6 linked regions of the Homo sapiens genome follow. The gene in region 4 interacts genetically with the main gene of each other region. Each region holds a gene or a part of one and is shown on either strand. Other genes may lie near its edges.

Region 1 (4,263 bases), on a different chromosome or scaffold from region 4:
CCCAGCTAAATTTTTTGTATTTTTAATAGAGACAAGGTTTCACTATGTTGGCCAGGCTGGTCTCGAACTGCTGACCTCAGGCTATCCACCCGCCTCAGCCTCCCAAAGGGTTGGGATTGCAGGCGTGAGCCACCGCACCCGGCAGATCAGTTTTTTATGTACACTGCTGGACAAACAGTATTTTGGACTGACTCATTGTAGCTTTGGAAATGTTTGGATTTTTTAATAGCTTTAACCTTTCTTGACCAAAATTCCACTATAATGGCTGCTTAGATTTGGATGAAAACTCAACAGCTTTATTTTTTAAAAGTTTGATAGCTTTATAAATGCTTTTTTAAAAAATTCCGGATGTGAAAATATTTATGTTTGTAGTTAAGATTGACCCAAGTGGGACTCTAGATCGGTGGATTCCAACAGAAATGTTTCTTCAGAGATGATTATTAAATAATGGGATGGACTAAACAAAGAAGGTGCCCCCCCCCCACCAAAAAAAAAGATATATATACATAGAACTAACTTTCCGGTAAACTAAGCAAATTCCACGAGGAATGCAAAGATGACCATTTTTGAAGGTAGGAATTTAAATTGGGTTTAGATAACAAATAACGGGTTGTAGACAGCTTACCCATAATCCCTCCTTCCCCCAAGCACTAGGCAGTGAAGTTAGACTTCTGGATTCCACCTCCACGCTCACCGCGCGGCACTATGCAATCTTCGGTTAGTTACCAGGTCTAAGTTAGGCTTCTGGATTCCAACTCCACGCTCCACCGCGCGGAACTATGCAATCTTGAGTTAGCTACCGGGTCTAAGTTAGGCTTCTAGATTCCAAATCCACGCTCCACTGCGCGGTAACTACATAATCTTGGGCTAGTTTACCAGCTCTAAGACTTAATTTTGCCATATGCAAGATGGAGATAACATCCAACTCCTGGTGTGTGAGGATTACGTGAATCCTTGCAGAATGTGGCTCAGTGCCTGGGACATAGTAAGCGCTCTACGGCTTCTGCTAGCATAACGCTGTTAGTTTCTCTCATCCTCCTACATCTACCTATCTCAACCAAGGTCCTGCGCTAAGCAGGGGCCTCCAAGCTGGGACGCAGCCCTTACTCTCAGGGTCAGCGCCGGCTGGGAAGGCCGCGACCTAACCAGGAGATTACGAACAATGTCACCAGGGCCACAGCGGAGCTCCTGCCAAGTCAAGCAACTCATGGAACCAACGGAGGCGAAGTCCGAATACCTAGGCAACCCTAACCTAAAAGTGTTTTTAACGTTCTCAGGTCCTATAATTTACCCAAATAAAGTGGGACCGTATTTGCAGGCGCTGAGAAACTTTCTCAACAGTAAGAACCAATCAGGCGCAGTGCGCAGGCGCCTTCAGTGGGTCCTGGGTCCGCCTCTTCCGCCCGGTGCGGGCGCCGATTGGTCCGCGTGGACACATAAGAGGCTGCGTATAGGCGCGAGAGCCCCTTTCCTCAGCTGCCGCCAAGGTGCTCGGTCCTTCCGAGGAAGCTAAGGCTGCGTTGGGGTGAGGCCCTCACTTCATCCGGCGACTAGCACCGCGTCCGGCAGCGCCAGCCCTACACTCGCCCGCGCCATGGCCTCTGTCTCCGAGCTCGCCTGCATCTACTCGGCCCTCATTCTGCACGACGATGAGGTGACAGTCACGGTGAGTGCGGGCGCGGGCCGGCGGCCGGGCTGCCTGTGGGCGGTGACTTTCGGCTCTCCATGCGGTTCCCGGCTCCAGGCCGTTCGACTGAGCACTTCCGGCCGGGGCCAGGCCGCGAACACAGGCCGCATAGGGCGGGCGCTCCTCGGGGCTGGGGCCTCTCTCCGGGCAGGTCCTGGGCCCCCGGGACCACGTGCGGGCCCAGCGGGCATGGAGTGCGCTTGAGGCTGGGCGCTCCGGCTCCAAGAGCCTTCGTGTAGAAAAGCTCTTCCGCAGTGCTTGGGCACCCTGACCCGTGCCTCGTCTCTCTCAGGGACACTTACTCGGACCTCTTTCGGTGTAATTGCCTTGAATTCCCCCGGTCGTGGAGGAAGGCGCCCGAGCTCGGCTCCACCTCCCAGGTCTTGTAACTTAAAAATAGCCGCGTGACTCAGGCAAGTCCCAGCCCGTGAAACAGCAGTGATGGGCTCGCCTCATTGCAGGGCGCCTGGCACACATCTCTTTTGCTTGTGATAGAATATTTGAGCTGGTTAAACATGTTATGTACACTTATTGAGTGACGTGCAGCATTTTGGAGATATTACATACGCTACGTTTTGATGGATTGACGTTTTTATTTGTTGTAGGAGGATAAGATCAATGCCCTCATTAAAGCAGCCGGTGTAAATGTTGAGCCTTTTTGGCCTGGCTTGTTTGCAAAGGTAAGGTGATGGTGGCAAAGTGATTGTGGTAAGGCCTGCTGATTTACGAGGGCAGTTGTACATGCTAAAGTACCCCCAGCGGTGCCATAACGCCCCACATGCCGCTGGATCTCCTAGGTGTTTTTCGTTGCATGTATATCTCTAGGAGCTAATAAGATTTCAGCTTGTCAAGTCTTACGTTTCCTTATCAGACTCTGGTTTCCCTTTTGCTCTGAAACCATGGTTAAAAAAAATGTGAATCAGGTCATTTATTCCCAAAAAGGGTCACTCGGGAGATAGGTACTACGCATGTTAAGTTGCAAGCAAATTCTTTTTCTTTTTCTTTTTTTTTTCTTGAGACGGAGTCACCCAGGCTGGAGTGCAGTGGTGCGATCTCAGCTCACTGCAAGCTCCGCCTCCCGGGTTCACGCCATTATCCTGCCTCAGCCTCCCGAGCAGCTGGGACTACAGGCGTGCGCCACCATGCCTGGCTAATTTTTGTGTGTGTGTTTAGTAGTGACGGGGTTTCACCATGTTAGCCAGGATGGTCTCGATCTCCTGACCTCGTGATCCCCCCGCCTCTGCCTCCCAAAGTGCTGAGATTACAGGCTTGAGCCACCGCTCCCGGCCCGCAAGCAAATTCTTTCAGTAAATTCTTGCATTAAACCTATGGTTTGATGGACATTTGGGTTTAGCGGACTTCATTGACACAGTAGGTACTGTGTGTTGGGATATAAAAGACTAATAAAGAGGTTCCTGGTCATGGAGCTTGCACTGGCTATTTTCCATTGTACAGGTTACTTAATCTCTGTCAAGTGAAGCTAATAGCATCTAACTCCAGGGTTGTGACCTCTAAAGAGTTTTGAAAGATTGAAAACATTGTACCTATGTCATATTTAACAAGCCCCTTTTGAAGTCCTATATTTGTTTAGTAGACTGAAAATTTGAATTCACTGTTAAGAGGAGACATGGAACTGTGGAAAGAATATTCATTTGAGTGTTTCAGGAAGTTTGGATTTTTTTTTTACCAACATATTATTTGTAAAAGGAGGGAAATCAGCTGCCTCAGGAGGTTCTTAACATATAGGAATGTAATTATCAGATTCAAAGCTGAACAGTAGTGCGTTGCCCTGTAACCTAAGTCTTGGCTGTTAGCAAAGAAAAGCCAGTGTCTGGGGTATTGGTTCCAGGACCTTCCACTAATAACAAAATCCCAGGATGTTCCATCTCTTATATAAATGTATTTGCATATAACCTATGCACATCCTCCTGTATACTTTAGAAGTCTACATGTTTGGTACACATGCTTATTTTTCCACTGTTGAATCCATGGATGTGGAACTCACTGTATATAGTGTTAGGGGTTGATCACTGTAACCTGGAATGGGGGATACTTTTCGTTTTTGGCTGCGTGAGTGCTTAACAAGGACAGAACTGGGCGTTTACCTATGCATGCACATGTATTGCAGGCCCTGGCCAACGTCAACATTGGGAGCCTCATCTGCAATGTAGGGGCCGGTGGACCTGCTCCAGCAGCTGGTGCTGCACCAGCAGGAGGTCCTGCCCCCTCCACTGCTGCTGCTCCAGGTAGGAAACATGGAGTTTTTAGTATTGGGAGGAGTGTAGAGATTTTTTAAAAAATAGTATTATAGACAAAATTGCCATTAATTTTTCACAAGTATATGAAGTATGGAAATCCTAACACCTGATTGACTTTTTTTTTCTAGCTGAGGAGAAGAAAGTGGAAGCAAAGAAAGAAGAATCCGAGGAGTCTGATGATGACATGGGCTTTGGTCTTTTTGACTAAACCTCTTTTATAACATGTTCAATAAAAAGCTGAACTTTACTGCTGTTGGTCTTGTCCATAGTTTTGGAATGTGCTCTGCAAAAATGGTCTGTTTTGTAATGTTGGCTTTC
Region 2 (3,500 bases), on a different chromosome or scaffold from region 4:
ATCCTCAAAATTACCCTTTTGTGCAAATGTGGTTATTTCCATTTTAATGATGAGAAAATAGGAATGTTGGAGGAATAATGCCAACTTTCCCAAGGTCATTTAGCTAGTTAAGAGATAGAGACAGGACCGGCCGGGCGCAGTGGCTCACGCTTGTAATCCCAGCACTTTGGGAGGCGGAGGAAGGCGGATCACGAGGTCAGGAGATTGAGACCACGGTGAAACCCCGTCTCTACTAAAAATACAAAAAAAAAAAAAAAAAATTAGCCGGGCGTGGTGGCGGGCGCCTGTAGTCCCAGCTACTCGGAGAGGCTGAAGCAGGAGAACGGCGTGAACCCAGGAGGCGGAGCTTGCAGTGAGCCGAGATCGCGCCATTGCACTCCAGCCTGGGCGACAGAGCGAGACTCCGTCTCAAAAAAAAAAAAAAAAAAAAAAAGAGACAGGACCTCAAACCCATAACATGTCTCAAGAGCCCAATCCCTTAGCAAGTATGCTCATCTAAGAATTTCTTCCTCCAAAATATTTAGGTGTGTGTGTCCAAATATCTTTATCACATTATAAGAGCAGAAACTTAATTAAATGCCCAACAGTTTATTCCATAGAACACAGTGTAGCTATTAAAAATCATATTGAAATAGAAAATACTCATGGGAAGACGTCTGTGATACTGTTAAGTGAAGGGGCAAATTTCAAAACCAGATTTATAATAAAAGTATAGTTTTTAAAATTATGTGTACAGGAAAAGACTAGAAGGACATACATCAGAATGGTTCACAATGGTTTTATATGTGTATGTATGTTTGGGGAGCAGAATTTTAGGCTTCTGTTTTGCTTTGAATTTTCCAGTTTTCTTGCTTTAAACATATTTTTTATAATTAATATAATTATAAAAGAAAGCAGAAATTTCCTCCAAAAGGATACCTTTTAGTCCCAACTCCTGGACTGTAAGAAATAGATTCTCAGTATGTAAATGGTATTCCTGAGCCTGGTGTGTCCCACTTAGCCTAATTTATTGTCTCTCTTTAACAGATGACATAACTTGGGAGTGATTACTTATCTTACGAGAATATATCTTTGCTATCTAAAAAAATTTGCTGTGCAGCTCTTATCTTCCCTTGTGTATGCAATAATATATACCTGCACATTTTAGGAGCACATGATTGTAAGACAACTCCTGCTTCATATGTTTGTAACATGTCTGTAGGTTCCAAATGCCTTAATTTCGACATTAAATTTCAATTTTAATGTATTTGTGTATCTCTTCCACACTATTTTTCTGACCAACATAGTAGACCAACTAATGGAATAGAAGGGTATGGTGCTCCCACACTGATCGGGATCCCTATTAGACCAGCTTTCATTACCAACTCACCTATAACTTGAGGATATTAAAATGAAACTCGCTGATTAATAATATGGAGTTCCTATATTAATCAACACAAGTACTTGGAACCTTGCAATAACAATTCAGCGGAAGGTCTAGGAATTTTAACAAGGATTCCCAAATCAGGCATCCAGCCCTTGAGGTTGGGTCAGCTGCTGCCTGCTTCACTGTCATCCTGCATTCCTTGGCACTTTGCTGGGCTCCCTCATTCTTTCCCAAGGTGAAGACTCCAGGAAGCTAACATCTCAACTGTTTAACCTGGTGTTTCTCATTCTCTTTAGACTGGTGGTGTGCTTGTTCCAGAGAAACTGGCTAGTTCGAAAAATGAAATAGCGTTTTTGCTTTTTATTATGATAGAAATGGAGAAGTGAACCATTGTCATATTACTTTTAGTTTGCAGAACATTCAGCTTGAAGGTTTAATACAGAATGAACATCATGTATCTTAGTGCCCAAGTGGGACTCCCCTGCACCCCCACTGATAATTGCTGCCATATTGTGTCTATGAACAGGTTCCTGGTATAAATTTACCCGTCAATCAACTGACCTATTTCTTCACGGCAGTTCTCATTAGTGGTGTTGTACATGAAATTGGACATGGGATAGCAGCTATTAGGTAATGATATTTACCTTTTTCTTTGTACTACATGCAAAAAAAAGCTTTTCATTTAGGAGGATTTATTACTAAAATCTGCTATATTTGATACTTCACTATTTTTCTTTCTGCGGCTATTGCCTAGTGCATAGCCATCATTTGTTACTTTGAGGAAGCTTCTTTTTTTATAGAGAAGATTAATATGTTGATGAATATGCTCCATTAACCATGGGCATATCTGTAATCAGGGTCTTTCTATCCTTTGCCTTTTCCAGTGTGGTTATCCTCATGATGCCTCAAAGTTTTTTACCAAGTCCTAAAAGCCAATCTTTCTGTTCATCGAGTCAGAATGATAACCACTGTACTCAAAACCCACTCACCTTAGAACTTGATTTGACTTATCAGCTGAAATAATTTCCTGCTTCTGCTTATGTCCTCTGCTGGCTAGAGCAAGAAAACTGAAAGCACTGGGTTTAACAAATATCATAGTCTATCTAGAAACCCAAGTGGAAGATAAGAAGACACCTGGGACTAGCTTTGAGTATCACTCCCTGTTCTTGGTCTTGGCTTCCCAAATGTATCATTGTAACTATACCTAAGCATTTAGAAGCCTATAACACATATAAAATCATGATGGGGAGAGGGCCACGTCATAACTCCCCTGCTACCTCCACTGATAATTACGGCCATAATTAGCAAGCATGCTAATAGGAATGTGTTTTATCCTTTCGGTGTGTGGACCAGAGAAAAGGTTAAAAACCTCTGTTTTGGCAGAGAAGATGTAATCACTTCTTATTACTTTCCAGTTGTTTATGAACAAGAGTCTATTTATTGGCAATAAATCCTCATCTTGACAGAGCATATACTGTTACACAGATGTGCACAATAGTGGCTTAAAGTGGTGGCTGCTGGGTTTTTTTTTTCTTTTAAAATCGCCTTCAGTGCTTTGCAGCCTTTAGGATTTTACCTATAGACACATCGTTAATAACAGCTTAACAATTTACAGTATGTTTGTAAAAATAACTTGGGTAATTTTTTTTTAAGTCCCAACTGCCAAGAAAAAAAATGAACTGTACGGTTGTCTTATATATTTAGTATTAAGCAACAGCACAATATATTTAGGTGATACTTTTTTCTAGGGGGGCTGTTTGGTTTTATGAGACTTAAATATTAATTTTTGGAAAATGAACTGATAAAAAATGGTTCTCTTTTTTTTTTTAATATGGAGATCAAAACCTGCTGAAAAAACTGGTTCTCTTAAGGACAATCTGAGCATTATGCATGTTTAAACATACTTATTTAACGTTAGCTTGATAGGAATACACCTAGATAAATCTCCACCATTATTTATAATTGCTAAGACAAATACAAGTTATTAGGTAATTTACTTGAATTATATCGTCTCCTATGTTCTTCTCTGAAAATAGTTCAGAGTAAACCATAAAAATGTTTTTCATTTAGTTTCTCATAAAAGCCATTTCTGTATATATGTGACTAACTTCAATTATTTGCTCAACATATTGGT
Region 3 (4,300 bases), on a different chromosome or scaffold from region 4:
GCAAGCAGAAGTATAGAAGGATGTAAATTTTGCAGATGGTAGTAATTAGTGCTACTTTCTCATTTGTGCTCCCACTAAATTTTGTGTTCTATTGGTACTCATCATATGTTAATCATTTCTTTTCTTTTCTTTTCTTTTTTTTTGAGACAATGTCTCACTTTGTTGCCCAGGCTGGAGTGCAGTGGTGCCATCTCGGCTCACTGCAACCTCCGCCTCCAGGGTTCAAGCGATTCTCCTGCCTCAGCCTCCCGAGTAGCTGGGATTACAGGCGCCTGCCACCACGCCTAGTTTATTTTTGTATTTTCAGTAGAGACGGGGTTTTGCCATGTTGGCCAGGGTGGCCTCGAACTCCTAACCTCAGGTGATCCACCCGCCTCGGCCTCCCAAAGTGCTGGGGTTACAGGCGTGAGCCACCGCGCCCGGCCGGTAATCATTTCTGTCACTCAACAAATATTTATTGAGCGCTTGCTATGTACCAGGACCTGTTCTTGCACAAAACAGGCAATCCATGCATTGCTTACATTCACATTCTAGTGGGGGTAGTGACGGACCATAAAATCAGCAAGAAAAATGTATGTTATGATAGATGGTTATGAGTGCTTTAGAGTAAAATTAAGTAGGGGAGGCAGGCAGGAAGTGTGTAGTATGTTTCAATTTTATATTAGGCTGGTCATGGTTTGTCATCTATTTCACCTGGCTCACAGTTCTTGCAGGACAGGAACAAATCTCACTTCCATTTGCCTTCATACTTCCAGCACTTAACACAGCACCAGGAACTCAGGGAGGCAATAACTTTATACTGAATCCGTTTTATGCCTTCCTAGAGGCAAGCAGTTGAGAAAGGCGTGTAACTAGATATTGCCTATAAGGTCCACAATTGGAATAACGTAATCATTTATGATTAATTTTATTCATTTCCATTAACTTAAGCTAAGTTCTTTTAGCACGTTTAGATTACAGAACGAAAGCTGTGTTAACTAGTATTACAGGACTTTTCACGTTTTTCCAAACATCTTCTAGCCACCTCTTTGGCCCTACAACTACGCATAAGCTTTTGCTTTTCAAAAAACCTCCACAGCCTTTGCCAATTATTTGTTGATCTCGAGTAGTTGTTATAACAGCACTTGGGGTTTAACACTAAGGTTGCAGATCGCGCCCAGTTATCAGTTCCTCGAACCTCAAGGAATCACAAAGCAAGGTTCCACCCCCCGAAAAACTACGAAAAGTGAGAAAGCCTCTAACACTCCTCGCGCCGTGCCCAGCCGGAACCTTGACCTCAAGATGGCGTCCCGTAGTCGTAAGATTCAGTCGGCTCCAATCAAACATGGTGGGTCATAATTTACAGTTCGGGCCTTTCTAGTAACCGCTAGACGCTGCTTCTCTATGGTTATTCGTCTCGGCTTGGTGAGTCAGAGCCAACAGCGGAGACGATCTATATACGTTCTTCTCTATGGTTCCGCGCTCCCCGCCCCCGGCCGCAGTGCACGCCGGGCAAGAGGAAGACCTCCATCAGCTCGCCGCGCAGCGCGGCTGTATTTGCGGCCTGTGCGAGTAGGCGCTTGGGCACTCAGTCTCCCTGGCGAGCGACGGGCAGAAATCTCGAACCAGTGGAGCGCACTCGTAACCTGGATCCCAGAAGGTCGCGAAGGCAGTACCGTTTCCTCAGCGGCGGGTGAGTTTGTGTCTCTGAACGCGTGTGGAAACCGGGAGACCGGGTGCCTCAGCTGGTGGAGGAGGAAAAGCCGGGGTGGCTGCGAAAGCGCCAGGGTGGGGTAGAGGTAAGGGGGAGCGCGGAGGCGGGGGTGGGGGAGGGGTCGGCACGAGGCTTGGTTTCTTCTCTTCTCTAAGGCCTGGAAAAGCTGTGGGCCCAGCCGTAGCTGGTGGAGGCCAGACCTACGGCTTGAGCTTTCCGTCTTGCATTGTCGCCCACTTTCCCTTTCCCTTCCACGTTCCGCCGCGGAGTGAATCGTCTCTGCCCCCCCTGGGCTCCACGTTAGATACAAAACGATCGATCTGCCCCAGGGGAGCCCTTCCCTGAGCCCCCTTACTTACCGGAGCCCCACAGTAGGTTTTCGGGCCTGGGACACTCTCGCCCCAGCCGTTGCCTTGAAGTTAGCCTCTACCCACCCTTTTTAGCGAGGTGCTGGCCACCAACGGATATCTTTCCCTTCCTCTTTGGCCATCTAGAGCCCGCCACCAAGTGAACTGGGCCCCACCCCCTTGGAATTGAGCTAATACCTACCTTTTTAGCAGTCTCCTGGCTTGCTTAAGATAGTCATGAATTTTGCCATCCTGCCTCTTTTGCGCATTGGAGGGTGCAGTAAACTGTATATCGCCATTCATTCTAGGCGATTACTAAGCTCCACATTAAAATGTTACTTTCTCATTTTTCTTTGGTCGTCAATCCTGCTTTTAAATACGGTTTTCCGGAATAGACGTAGGACTATGAAGATTTTTCGGAGGTTATGTAATATGGATTTGTATTGCCATGGAAATGCCATTTTGATACTGGGCAGAGTGGAGCCAAGAGAAGGGAAGAGATTGGACCTCTGTTGCACCCTACTGCTGTATTAGTGTGAAGTACTCTGTGTATTAGGCCGTGGGCAGTAATGTATAAATAATTTTTGTATAGTCTTTGGAGCTTTTAATTTTTTTAAAGGCTATTTCCAAAAACATTCAGAGGACTTGAAAGGGATTAAGTTGGTCATAAGTTACTCATGATTCAAGTGAATCTTATAGTATTCTAATTCATTTAACTTAAAGCCTTGGTTTTTCTTTTTCTTTTTTCTTTTAAGCTTTGGTTTTTGTTCCTCTGTAAAATGAATTTATAGTAGTATCTATACGTTATTGGGGTTGGGGATTGAGAAAAACGTATGTAAAATCCTTCGTGCAGTATCCAGGTAACACACATAAGCATTTAAATCTATATTGACATAATTTGTTATTTAAGGATTTTCAATGAAATGTAAGAGTCCAACCCTGACTCTGTAATTTTTTTTTTTGTTTTGTGTTGTTGTTTTTTTTAAGACGGAGTCTTGCTGTGTTGCCCAGGCTGGAGTGCGGTGGCGCGATCTTGGCCACTGCAACCTCCGCCTCCCAGGTTCAAGCGATTCGCCTGCCTCAGCCTCCTGAGTAGCTGGGACTACAGGCGCGCGCCACCACGCCCGGCTAATTTTTGTAGTTTTAATAGAGGCGAGGTTTCACTATGTTGGCCAGAATGGTCTCGATTTCCTGACCTCGTGATCCGCCCGCCTAGGCCCCAAAGCGCTGGGATTACAGGCGTGAGCCACCGTGCCCGGCCTTCTGAATGTATTTTTAAAGTAAAACTAGTCCATGTTAACATTGGGTAACTACTTCAGACCTAACAGGAATTTGGAATTTTCAAGTTATGTTTTTGTCCACAGACAAATTAGCAGTTTACTTTTCTTATTTACACATGATTTAGTGAAAATTTACATTATTTTATAGCTTTGGAAGCAAAGGAATCATTTATCAATCTTAACATCTTGCTAAAACAGTCTGTATTTTAGAGATCTCTTGATTGACTTTTCAAACACTATCACTGCCATTCACAAAAGGGGATTTTTGATTCTTCTTAAATAGCTTTTCTACCTTTTTTTGAAAATTGAAAGTTGCTGAAACTAGAAGAACAAAATTCCACTACCCAGAATTATTGGTATTGGCTTTTAACTTTTTATTTAGACATAATTTCAGATTTACAAAAAAAGTTGCAAGAATAGTACAAAAGAAATCTCAGCTATCTTTCACCAGATTCCTCAAATGTTAACATTTTGCCAATTTGCTTTATCCTTCTCTTCATAGGTTTCTTCTGAAATGTTTTGCTAGTAAGTTGCAGATGTGATGCCCCTTAACCCATAAATACTTAAGTGTATTTTCTAAAAATTAGGACTAGTCTTACCTAACAACAGTACGACAATCAAAATCAGGAAACTAACACTGATAAAATACCTAATCTACAGTTCTTAAATAGATTTTGCCGATTTTTCTGAGTTGGTGTACTTTTTTTTTTTTTTCCTTTTTGGAGATGGAGTCTCGCTCTGTCACCCAGGCTGGAGTGTAGTGGCGCGATCTCACCTCACTGTAACCTCCGCCTCCCGGGTTCAAGCAATTCTCTTGCCTCATCCTCCATAGAAGCTGGAATTATAGGTGCCTGCCACCATGCCTGGCTAATTTTTGTATTTTTAGTAGAGACGGGGTTTGACCATGTTGTCCAGGCTGGTCTTGGAACTTCTGACCTCAGGTGATCCACCCGCCTTGGCCTCCCAAAGTGTTGGGATTG
Region 4 (3,500 bases):
AATGGGTGCATAAAAGAACAAGTCATAGATTTTATAGAGGTGTTAGTATGGTAGCAAAAGTATGCATAGAGAAGGTTAAGCTTGAACCAATTCTTAAAATATGACTAGATTTAACTCTTTCAAGTGGACCAGAAAGGTAGGGAGCATATTTCAGGCTTGAACACTGTTTTCAGAGAGCTGTAGCTCTGTACAGCAAGCATGCAAGATGCAAAGGTGGAGTGCTGAGAAACAAGGGTATGCAGATAGGTAAGAGCCAAAGGAGGTGAGGGCTGAGCGCCTTGTTAAGGTGTATGACAAGCCACACTGAAGTCTGCATAGTCTGGTTCAATGATTTTTTTCAACCAGGGTTAATGGATAGTTTAACATGTAAGTTGATATTTCACATCCTGTCAGTGGCTTGAGTGGTAGTTCTGTATAGTTTTATGTAGTCAGTGTTTTGGTTTTCCTGTTCGTATATGAAAATGGACAATCATTGTCATAATTTTTGTTCTGCAGTATAGATTATTCATGCTTTATATTTTAGATACAATTCTTTGCTGTTATATGTTATATTCTGTTGTTATGGCAAATTTTCAGTATAATTTTCAAGTGATACTTCAGGAGTTTTCTACAATTGTTTCCCTACAGTTGTTTCACTGCGGTTGTTCTTGACCAGTGTTGTTTTCACTTTAGGGTGTGCGTGCTATACCTTATGTGTTGTCTATTTACTTCTAAATACTTAAGCCTGGAAAGAGGATAATTAAAAAGGCCATCAGTTCATATGATAACAGTTAATTTCTATTTCTTTTTAAGCTTTTACTTGACTCTTTATTTAAATAGGAATATTTATGTAGCATGCTGTGTGCTCTTGCTCCAGAAATGTAGCAGAACCATGGGAATATTTTTACATATAATCTAAGAAAAGCATATAAAGCTACTTCTATGCTGATGGCAAAAATTCTTCTCAACCTGTGGTTTCCCAGCTCTGAATAGTTAATTGACATAATGACTAATTGATGATAAATCCATTTTTAAGGGCTAGCTATTAAAGTCTTTTTTAAAAAGACCTTTATGTTATTGTTAAACTAGTGTTAGAAACATGGGAATAAAAAGTATATTCATATGATTACATTTACCACAAAGACTGTGTAAGAGAGATTTCTGACTGAAACGTGGAGAGGAATAAGACTAATGACAATAGTAATAATAATAACTGACATTAATATGTGACATAAGGCATTATGTTAAGTGCTTTATGTGCATGACTTCATTTAATCTTTATAGCAGTGCTTTGAGATAGGCAGTGCTGGATTAAGATGTTAGAAGCCCTAAGAACTGAAAAGGTTACACTCTGAGGCATTTCTCCTCCTCTCCCATATGTGATTAAAATTTTTTTAAAAATAGCATACTAAAGCAAACATAAGAAAATCTAACAAAATTTCATTTATTACTGTGGTGACAAAGTTGATGTCTTTTTCAAACATCAAGTTCCGTTTTGAGAAGTTTTTCTAACTTTCCTGGTCTGCTTTGCTGGTACCTTAAGTAAATGCTTTGTCCGTCCCATAGATTATTGCTCTCTGGTGGCAGGTATTTTATGGATTAGCAAATTGAGTTTAGAGATGTTGGGAAATTTGTCTGGAGTTACAGAGTAGACAGTGGATCCAGGATGTAAATTCAGACATTCTGACAAAGTACACAGGCGCACTGAAGTTTAAGTAGATTTGTACATATTCCTGTGTTTTGAAGCTAAGCATCTTAAATTTATGTAGGGGAATTATTGACATCTACTCTTAATTCACAATTTCTTTAGAAACAAGATCTTTTCCTTTTAGAGTTTCAAATAAGGAATTGGCTGAAATAAAAGGATGAAACTTTTAGATCCTGTTAAAGATAAATTTTAATAATTCCTCAGGGAATTTATTACATAGAAAGCACATCTATGTTCTCCTGTTTTAGACCTGTTTAAGATGAGTTTTAATTATTCCTCAGGGAATTCATTACATAGAAAGTACATCTGTGTCCTCCTGCGTGTTGTACTAATAAAACAACCCACTTCTTAGCTTTTGCCAATATCATCCCCTTTTCCCTCCCTACCTTGAGCCTCTATGTTACTTTCTTCTAAGAGCATTTCTTCTTTTGGCTTCTGTAATTTTCCAGGTAAGACTGTAGGCATTATGATTAAGCCTTAGAATTTGATTGGCTAGAAATCTTTAAGGTTCTTTATGTTCTTGAATTTTATTCACTTTTAGAAGTGCATTTTAACACCCGGAAGTGAATAAGACTTGAATATTCCATGTTATTTTCTTAATCAAAACCTGTCCATTATTGGTACAGATTGTCTTCCTGCTGCGGGTGTTTCAGAACCAGAATTGTAGCAGTAGGGTTCGTTCTACTGGAATGGTATAACTAATGGACTTTCAACAGAAAATTTTCCCCTAGAAAGTAGTAGTATTAACAACAGTAAAGCTACCAGGTTTTAAGTGCCTGTTATGTATGGACCCGAACCAGGCTTTCTTCTCTGACCTAACCAGCTTCTTCACAGTCCTGCAATGTGTAGGAGTGATATCCTCTTTATAAAGGTTAAAAAAACTGAGGCTCAGTTGTTTACTAAAGTCACAAAGCAAAAGAGTGGTAGAAATTCTGGGACTTTTTTTCTCAGTGTAGATCTACTATTCCTATCTAGTATGCCATCAGATTTTTTGAAGAAAAGAACATTAACTGGCAAGGCTCTTTGAAGGAATTTCTTTTCTTATAAAGCCAGGCCAAATTTTGTCTCTGTTTGCTAATGTCTTATCGACTATGGGCAAATTACTAAGCTCTTGTGAACCCCATTTCTCTAATTTGTGAAATATTTGCTTCACAGTGTTGCTGTGAGGATTTGTGAGATAATATATATGAGACATAATGTTTCACAGACCAGGTTCTCAAGTGTTTGCACCATATAGTTGCACAGTCAAACTTTTATTTAGGTGTATACCTTATATGTCAGTAAATAAATTTTTATCTATGCCTTCTTAGCTATGGATGTTTCAAACAATAAAATGATATTTAAAAGCGAGGTCTTAATTCAGGGACTTATTTAGTTATTTTTATTTTTTTCCTGCCTGGCTTTTTAATGTCTGACTACCCTAAAGAAAATCTTTTGGATTAAGTTTTTGAAGTGAGTTCTGATATTAATAGTTCTTGTTAAGATGGAAAAGATGTTAATAAAAACACACTTGAGAAATATGTAAAGTGGGATCTGAAAGGCTAGCATATTGGAGATGTATTGAAGTATACATATCTCAGTATTATTTCAATATTACATGCTATTTGCAAAGCTATTAATGCTGATGTAGATACTGATAGAGTTATTGTATAATCAGTTTTTAGAAAAAGAGAGTTTTGAGTTTTATTGATACAACCGTAGTTTGCTTTTGTGCAGATGGGCTGCTTCTTTATAGCATTTGTGATTTGACATTTGCCGTTAGTATTATCTCTTGACTCTATGCAGATGGCGTTACTTGACCCATGCAAGTTCA
Region 5 (3,500 bases), on a different chromosome or scaffold from region 4:
TTCTAATACTAGCCCTTTAATGGATATGTGGTTTGCAGGTATTTTCTCCCACTCTATCGCTTGCTTTTTATCCTCCTCATAGGGTCTTATGCAGAACAAAAGATAGTTTTATTTATTTATTTATTTTATTTTTTTGAGACAGAGTCTTGCTCTGTCGCCCAGGCTGGAGTGCAGTGGCACAATCTCGGCTCACTGCAAGCTCTGCCTCCCGGGTTCACGCCATTCTCCTGCCTCAGCCTCCCAAGTAGCTGGGACCACAGGCGCCCACCACCATGCCCGGCTAATTTTTTGTATTTTTTTAGTAGAGACGGGGTTTCACCGTCTCTTAGACAGGTTGGTCTCCATCTCCTGACCTTGTGATCTGCCTGCCTTGGCCTCCCAAAGTGCTGGGATTACAGGTGTGAGCCACCACGCCCGGCCTATTTATTTATTTTTTGAGACAGACTCTCACTGTGTCACCCAGGCTGGAGTGCAGTGGTGTGATCTCCACTTACTGCAACCTCTGCCTCCCAGGTTCAAGCGATTCTCCTGCCTCAGCCTTTCAAGTAGCTGGGACTACAGGCATGAGCCACCATACCTGGCTAATTTTTGTATTTTTAATAGAGATGAGGTTTTGCTGTGTTGGCCAGGCTGGTCTCAAACTTCTGACCTCAGGTGATCCGCCCACCTCAGTCTCCCAAAGTGCTGGGATTACAGGCGTGAGCCACTGTGCCCGGCTGCAAAAGGTTTTTTTTTTTGAGGAAGTCCGGAATATACATTTTTTCCTTTTATAGATTATACTTTTGGTCTCAAGTCTAAGAACTCTGTCTAGCCCCAGATGCTGAAGGTTTTCTTTTTTGAGACAGAATCTTCCTCTGTCACCTAGGCTGGAGTGCAATGGCCCGATCTTGGCTCTCTGTAACCTCTGCCTCCTAGGTTCAGATGGTTCTCATGCCTCAGCTTCCCAAGTAGCTGGGACTACAGGCATGCACTACCATGCCTGGTTAATTTTTTGTATTTTTATTAGAGACAGGGTTTCACTGTGGTGGCCAGGCTGGTCTTGAACTCCTGGCCTCAAGTGATTCACCCATCTTGCCCTCCCAAAGTGCTGGTATTACAGGTGTGAGACACAGCGCCTGGCCTGGTATTTGTTTTTTGGGTTTTTGGGGTTTTTGTTTTTTTTTTGAATTATGAAACATTTCCCATTTTTATTTATAAAATTATTAATTAAATTTGCAAAAGTAGATTTACAGAGCCTCAGGTAACAAAACAGGAAATGAAATGTTCCAGAGATGGCCGGGCGCGGTGTCTCACGCCTGTAATCCTAGCACTTTGGGAGGCCGAGGCAGGCGGATCACGAGGTCAGGAGATGGAGACCATCCTGGCTAACACGGTGAAACGCTGTCTCTACTAAAAATACAACAAATTAGCCGGGTATGGTGGCAGGTACCTGTAGTCCCAGCTACTTGGGAGGCTGAGGCAGGAGAATGGCGTGAACCGGGGAGGCGGAGCTTGCGGTGAGCCGAGATCGCCGCCACTGTACTCCAGCCTGGGAGACAGAGCGAGACTCCATCTCAAAAAAAAAAAAAGAACACAAACATGGCCGGGCCCAGTGGCTCATGCCTGTAATCCCATCACTTTGGAACACCGAGGCGGGTGGATCACGAGGTCAGGCGTTCGAGACCAGCCTGGCCAACATAGTGAAACCCTGCCTCTACTAAAAATACAAAAAATTAGCTGGGCATGGTGTCAGGCACCTGTAATCCCAGCTACTCGGGAGGCTTAGGCAGGAGAATCGCTTGAACCTGGGAGGCGGAGGTTGCAGTGAGCCGAGATAATGCCACTGCACTCCAGCCTGGGCTACAGAGCAAGACTCTGTCTCAAAAAAAAAAAAAAAAAAAAAAAAGAAATGTTCCAGAGACATTCTGAAAAGTTCCAAAGAAACACACACTAGCCTAAAAATCTCAGTTAAACCATGGTTGCACAACAGGTTATATTTATTCCTGCATTTTCTCAATAAGTTCCTCCTTATATTTGCCTTTCTCTTTTCTGACTTGTCGAGACTTGGCTTTGTGTTCAATAATTTTTTTCCGATCCTTGTTGAGATTTAGCCTGGTGATAACCACCTTGTTTGGGTGAGTACCCACGTGGACGGTTGTGCTGTTGGCCTACTCACGCTGCACCTGCTCAGTGTAGATGACATCTTTCTTTCTGTACACCTGGACTACCTTGCCAATTTGCTGACCTTTGTAGTGTCCTTGAACTACCTGGACCTCGTCGTCCTTGCGGATGGGTGTGGAGCGGACATTGTACTTCTGCCGCAGCTCCTTGGAGAGCGGGGATGACATGATCTTCCGGTGCACGTGCAAGGGGGCATGGAAGTGACGTTTGCGGTTTTTGCTGCGGTCCAAGTTCACGAAGGGATTGAACTTCATGGTGATGCTCCGGCTAGCGGCGGCCTCAGGCCTGTTTTGTTTTTTTTTTTTTTTTTGAGACAGTGACTCACTTTGTCACCCAGGCTGGAGTTCAGTGGCATGATCAAGGCTCACTGCAGCCTCGACCTCCTTGGCTCAAGTGATCCTCCTGCCTCAGCCCTCCAAGTAGGTGGGACTATAGGTATATGCCAGCATACTCAGCTTATTTTTGTATTTTTTGTAGAGACCGGTTTTCGCTGTGTTGCTCGGGCTGGTCTCAAACTCCTGAGCTCCAGCAATCTGCCCACCTTGGCCTCCCAAAGTGTTGGGATTACAGGCGTGAGCCACTGTACCTGGCCCAGTTATCATATTTTTAGTTCTAAAATTTCCATTTTATTCTTTCTATCTTCTATTTCTTGGCTGAGACTTTGTTTTTTGGTTCATATTCAAGCGTGTTCATAATTACTCATTAAATGTTGTTACCGTGGCTGCTTTAAAATCTTGGTCAGATAGTTCTGACCTCTCTGTCATTCTGGTGTTGGCATTTATAGATTGTCATCTGTTTTCATTGAGTTTGAGATTTTCCTGGTTCGTCTTTAATTATTGATTTTTTTATTGAAACATGAGCATATTTTGTTGTTACTGAAAACTTCTGTTTTAGCTGGCTTCCTCTCACACTGCCATGGTAGGGGAAGAGGGGTACCACCTCATTCCTGCCAGGTGGGAGTCGAAGTGTGGGTTCCCCACTCAGCCTTCTTTGACCAAAGTGGGAGGTTCCTCGTTACCGCTGGGCCCACTTGGTTGGGGTGGAAGTCTAGGCTTCTGATGTGGTCTCTACTAACATGTGGGGTTGGTGCCAGTTACCAGTCATCGGGGATGAAAGACCTGACTCCCTACTTGGCTTTCTCTGACACCCGCCTGGTGGGGTGTGGGGCACCTTGTTACAGCCTTGAGAAGGGCAGAGATCTACCCTCCTCCCTGTTTGCTGGTGTCTGTGGTTGTGGGGCTGTACTTTTTTTCCAGTGATATTTGGCTAGAGTAGTTATTGTGTGAAAGTTTTCTGTCTAGCTAGGCTTTCCTTTTCCTGTTCCTTCAGCTGGAGAGAGC
Region 6 (3,500 bases), on a different chromosome or scaffold from region 4:
CGGGTTCAAGCAATTCTCCTGCCTTAGCCTCCCGAGCAGCTGGGATTACAGGCGCACACCACCATGCCCGGCTAATTTTTTTGTATTTTTAGTAGAGCTGGGATTTCACCATATTGGTCAGGCTGGTCTCAAACTCTTGATCAGGGTGATCCACCCGCCTCAGCCTCCCAAAATGCTGGGATTACAGGCGTGAGCCACCGCGCCCAGCTTCCAATAATAATTTTATATTTTAACTGACTTTTGGAAGCAAACTTGCAAGAAGCAGTATAGGTAAAAGAAAATCATCGCTGCCATTATGCAAGTTGTTTCCCTTACACATATATGTTGTTTTGAAACATTTTGGTTCATGTCAGTCTTACTATATGTCAGTCTTACCATATCTCCCTGATCAAAGATAAAGGAAGATGTGATGATCTAGAATGGAAGCAATTTGTTTTAGACTACTGGGAAAATTTTGTTTTGTCCAATTATGCTTTTAATATTTTTATTTTATTTATTTATTTTTTTGAGACGGAGTTTCACTCTTGTTGCCCAGGCTGGAGTGCATTGGCACAATCTCAGCTTACCACAACCTCTGCCTCCCAGGTTCAAGCGGTTCTCCTGCTTCAGCCTCCCGAGTAGCTGGGATTACAGGCATGCATCACCATGCCCGGCTAATTTTGTATTTTTAGTAGAGACAGGGTTTCTCCATATTGGTCAGGCTGGTCTCGAACTCCCGAACTCAGGTAATCCGCCTGCCTCAGCCTCCGAAAGTGTTGGGATTACAGGCGTGAGCCACAGTGCCCGGCACTTTTAATGTTTTTATTTTAATTAATTAATTAATTTATTTATTTATTTATTTATTTTGAGACAGATTTTCGCTCTGTCGCCAGCCTGGAGTGCAGTGGCGCAATCTCTGCTCACTGCAACCTTGGCTTACTGCAACCTCCGCCTCCTGGGTTCAAGTGATTCTCCTCCCTCAGCCTCCCAAGTAGCTGGGAATACAAGCATGTACCACCACACCCAGCTAATTTTTGTATTTTTAGTAGATACAGGGTTTTACCATGTTGGCCAGGATGGTCTTGATCTCCTGACCTCGTGATCTGCTGCCTCGGCCTCCCGAAGTGCTGGGATTACAGGCGTGAGCCACAGCACCCGGCCTTTGTTGGTTTTTTGTTTTGTCACACATTGAGGCCTTAGCAGGTTAGGCTTTAGTAAAAAGTCATGAGAATTAATGACATTTGGGTTTCAACTTAAAATGATCTGCCCCATAGATTCCCAGATTTTATTTCCAAAGCCTTTCTTAAGAAGACAATTAATTAAACATGCAATAATATCTTTAGGAGTTTCTAAAAAGTCTATTGGAAATCATTTTATAATAAAGATATTAGGAGCCCTCATGTTTTTGAAACGTTCTAAAAGTTATTTTGGTAAATCATTTTCTCCACTTTATTTGTTTTGTAAATCCTAAGCCTTATGTGTTGGGAATTTGTTTAGTACTTTATTTTAAACTTTACAACTTTATTATAAACTGAGGATGCAAGGAACAACATATTTTTCTGGGCTCTGCCATTTAACTCTCTAGCTAACAAATTTAGGTTTTGGTGAAGCATGCTTGTTGCTTTTAACTTCCTGATGGATATAACCCACCTTTACTATGGAGTATGACTTCTTTTTTTTTTTTTTTTTTGAGACGGAATTTTGCTGTTGTTGCCCAGGCTGGAGTGCAGTGGCACAATCTCGGCTCACCGTAACCTCTGCCTCCTGGGTTCAAGCGATTCTCCTGCCTCAGCCTCCCAAGTAGCTGGGATTACAGGCGCCCACCACAACGCCTGGCTAATTTTGTATTTTTAGTAGAGACGGGGTTTCTCCATGTTGGTCAGGCTAGTCTCGAACTCCCAATGTCAGGCGATCCACCCATCTTGGCCTCCCAAAGTGCTGGGATTACAGGCGTGAGCCACCGCACCTGGCCAAGCATGACTGCCTTATCCTGTTTTCACTTTATCAAAGATTAAATTCAAAATTCTGAAAGTAATCATTGTGAGTATGGCTGTTTCTTTTCCAATGTGGGAAAAAAATAGTGACCCATCTTTTTTCAGATGAATAAGTAGTAGATAATTTTATTGTTATATGATTCAGATATGTTTTCATGTAGGATTTAGTTTAATCTATTTTTTTTTTTTTTGAGATGTAGTCTCACTCTGTCGCCCAGGCTGGAGTGCAGTGGCTTACTGTAAGCTCCACCTCCCAGGTTCATGCCATTCTCCTGCCTCAGCCTCCTGAGTAGCTGGGACTACAGGTGCCTGCCACCACGCCTGGCTAATTTTTTGTATTTTTTAGTAGAGATGCGGTTTCACCGTGTTAGCCAGGATGGTCTCGATCTGCTGACCTGGTGATCTGCCCGCCTCAGCCTCCCAAAGTGCTGAGATTACAGGTGTGAGCTACCGTGCCCAGCCAGTTTAATCTATTTTTTAAATGAACTTTATTTCTTTAGAGTAGTTTAAGATTTACAGAAAAATTGTGAAGATAGCGCAAAGAAGTCTCATATATCCCTGCATCCAGTTTCTCCTATTGTTAACATCTTACATTAATGTGGTACAGTTGTTACAGTTAATGAGCCAATATTGATACATAATTATAAACTGGAGTCCATACTTTATTTAGATTTACTTAGTCTACCTAATGTCCATTTTCTGTTCCAGGATCTTACTCATTATACCATCTTACATTTAGTCCTGTCTCCTTGGGGTGCCTCTTGATTGGGCTGGTTTCTCAGACTGTCCTCGTTTTTGATGGCACTTAATCTATTTTACAATTGATAAGTTACAGTTCTTCATAGTTTGTTTTATTGATCTGTTTTCCTCCATATACTACTGTAGTCCATTCATTTAAAACTGGCTTTTTATTTTTCCAGTAGGAAATCCATGAAGTCCAGAAGTAGAAGTCCTGCATATTCAAGACATTCATCTTCTCATAGTAAAAAGAAGAGATCCAGTTCACGCAGTCGTCATTCCAGTATCTCACCTGTCAGGCTTCCACTTAATTCCAGTCTGGGAGCTGAACTCAGTAGGAAAAAGAAGGAAAGAGCAGCTGCTGCTGCTGCAGCAAAGATGGATGGAAAGGAGTCCAAGGGTTCACCTGTATTTTTGCCTAGAAAAGAGAACAGTTCAGTAGAGGCTAAGGATTCAGGTTTGGAGTCTAAAAAGTTACCCAGAAGTGTAAAATTGGAAAAATCTGCCCCAGATACTGAACTGGTGAATGTAACACATCTAAACACAGAGGTAAAAAATTCTTCAGATACAGGGAAAGTAAAGTTGGATGAGAACTCCGAGAAGCATCTTGTTAAAGATTTGAAAGCACAGGGAACAAGAGACTCTAAACCCATAGCACTGAAAGAGGAGATTGTTACTCCAAAGGAGACAGAAACATCAGAAAAGGAGACCCCTCCACCTCTTCCCACAATTGCTTCTCCCCCACCCCCTCTACCAACTACTACCCCTCCACCTCAGACACCCCCTTTG

The links.
Region 1: changes in ASCC3 (region 4) and RPLP1 together harm fitness more than expected from each alone (negative genetic interaction), as found in Homo sapiens cells (one large-scale study listed by BioGRID).
Region 2: changes in ASCC3 (region 4) and MBTPS2 together harm fitness more than expected from each alone (negative genetic interaction), as found in Homo sapiens cells (one large-scale study listed by BioGRID).
Region 3: changes in ASCC3 (region 4) and RBM25 together harm fitness more than expected from each alone (negative genetic interaction), as found in Homo sapiens cells (one large-scale study listed by BioGRID).
Region 5: changes in ASCC3 (region 4) and DNA2 together harm fitness more than expected from each alone (negative genetic interaction), as found in Homo sapiens cells (one large-scale study listed by BioGRID).
Region 6: changes in ASCC3 (region 4) and CDK12 together harm fitness more than expected from each alone (negative genetic interaction), as found in Homo sapiens cells (one large-scale study listed by BioGRID).

What each region holds. Positions count from the first base shown.
Region 1 is NC_000015.10:69,451,355-69,455,617, forward strand, and holds the start of RPLP1 (large ribosomal subunit protein P1), read left to right. Parts: upstream 1-1,463; 5' UTR 1,464-1,594; coding exon 1,595-1,666; intron 1,667-2,292; coding exon 2,293-2,367; intron 2,368-3,815; coding exon 3,816-3,933; intron 3,934-4,073; coding exon 4,074-4,153; 3' UTR 4,154-4,263. UniProt on the Homo sapiens protein: Plays an important role in the elongation step of protein synthesis.
Region 2 is NC_000023.11:21,849,617-21,853,116, forward strand, and holds part of MBTPS2 (membrane-bound transcription factor site-2 protease), read left to right. Parts: intron 1-1,892; coding exon 1,893-1,996; intron 1,997-3,500. UniProt on the Homo sapiens protein: Zinc metalloprotease that mediates intramembrane proteolysis of proteins such as ATF6, ATF6B, SREBF1/SREBP1 and SREBF2/SREBP2.
Region 3 is NC_000014.9:73,057,034-73,061,333, forward strand, and holds the start of RBM25 (RNA-binding protein 25), read left to right. Parts: upstream 1-1,500; 5' UTR 1,501-1,672; exon of another isoform or gene 1,673-1,751; intron 1,752-2,052; exon of another isoform or gene 2,053-2,202; intron 2,203-2,242; exon of another isoform or gene 2,243-2,420; intron 2,421-4,300. UniProt on the Homo sapiens protein: RNA-binding protein that acts as a regulator of alternative pre-mRNA splicing. Involved in apoptotic cell death through the regulation of the apoptotic factor BCL2L1 isoform expression.
Region 4 is NC_000006.12:100,843,330-100,846,829, reverse strand, and holds part of ASCC3 (activating signal cointegrator 1 complex subunit 3), read left to right. Parts: intron 1-3,500. UniProt on the Homo sapiens protein: ATPase involved both in DNA repair and rescue of stalled ribosomes. 3'-5' DNA helicase involved in repair of alkylated DNA: promotes DNA unwinding to generate single-stranded substrate needed for ALKBH3, enabling ALKBH3 to process alkylated N3-methylcytosine (3mC) within double-stranded regions.
Region 5 is NC_000010.11:68,423,474-68,426,973, reverse strand, and holds part of DNA2 (DNA replication ATP-dependent helicase/nuclease DNA2), read left to right. Parts: intron 1-3,500. UniProt on the Homo sapiens protein: Key enzyme involved in DNA replication and DNA repair in nucleus and mitochondrion.
Region 6 is NC_000017.11:39,467,986-39,471,485, forward strand, and holds part of CDK12 (cyclin-dependent kinase 12), read left to right. Parts: intron 1-2,893; coding exon 2,894-3,500. UniProt on the Homo sapiens protein: Cyclin-dependent kinase that phosphorylates the C-terminal domain (CTD) of the large subunit of RNA polymerase II (POLR2A), thereby acting as a key regulator of transcription elongation.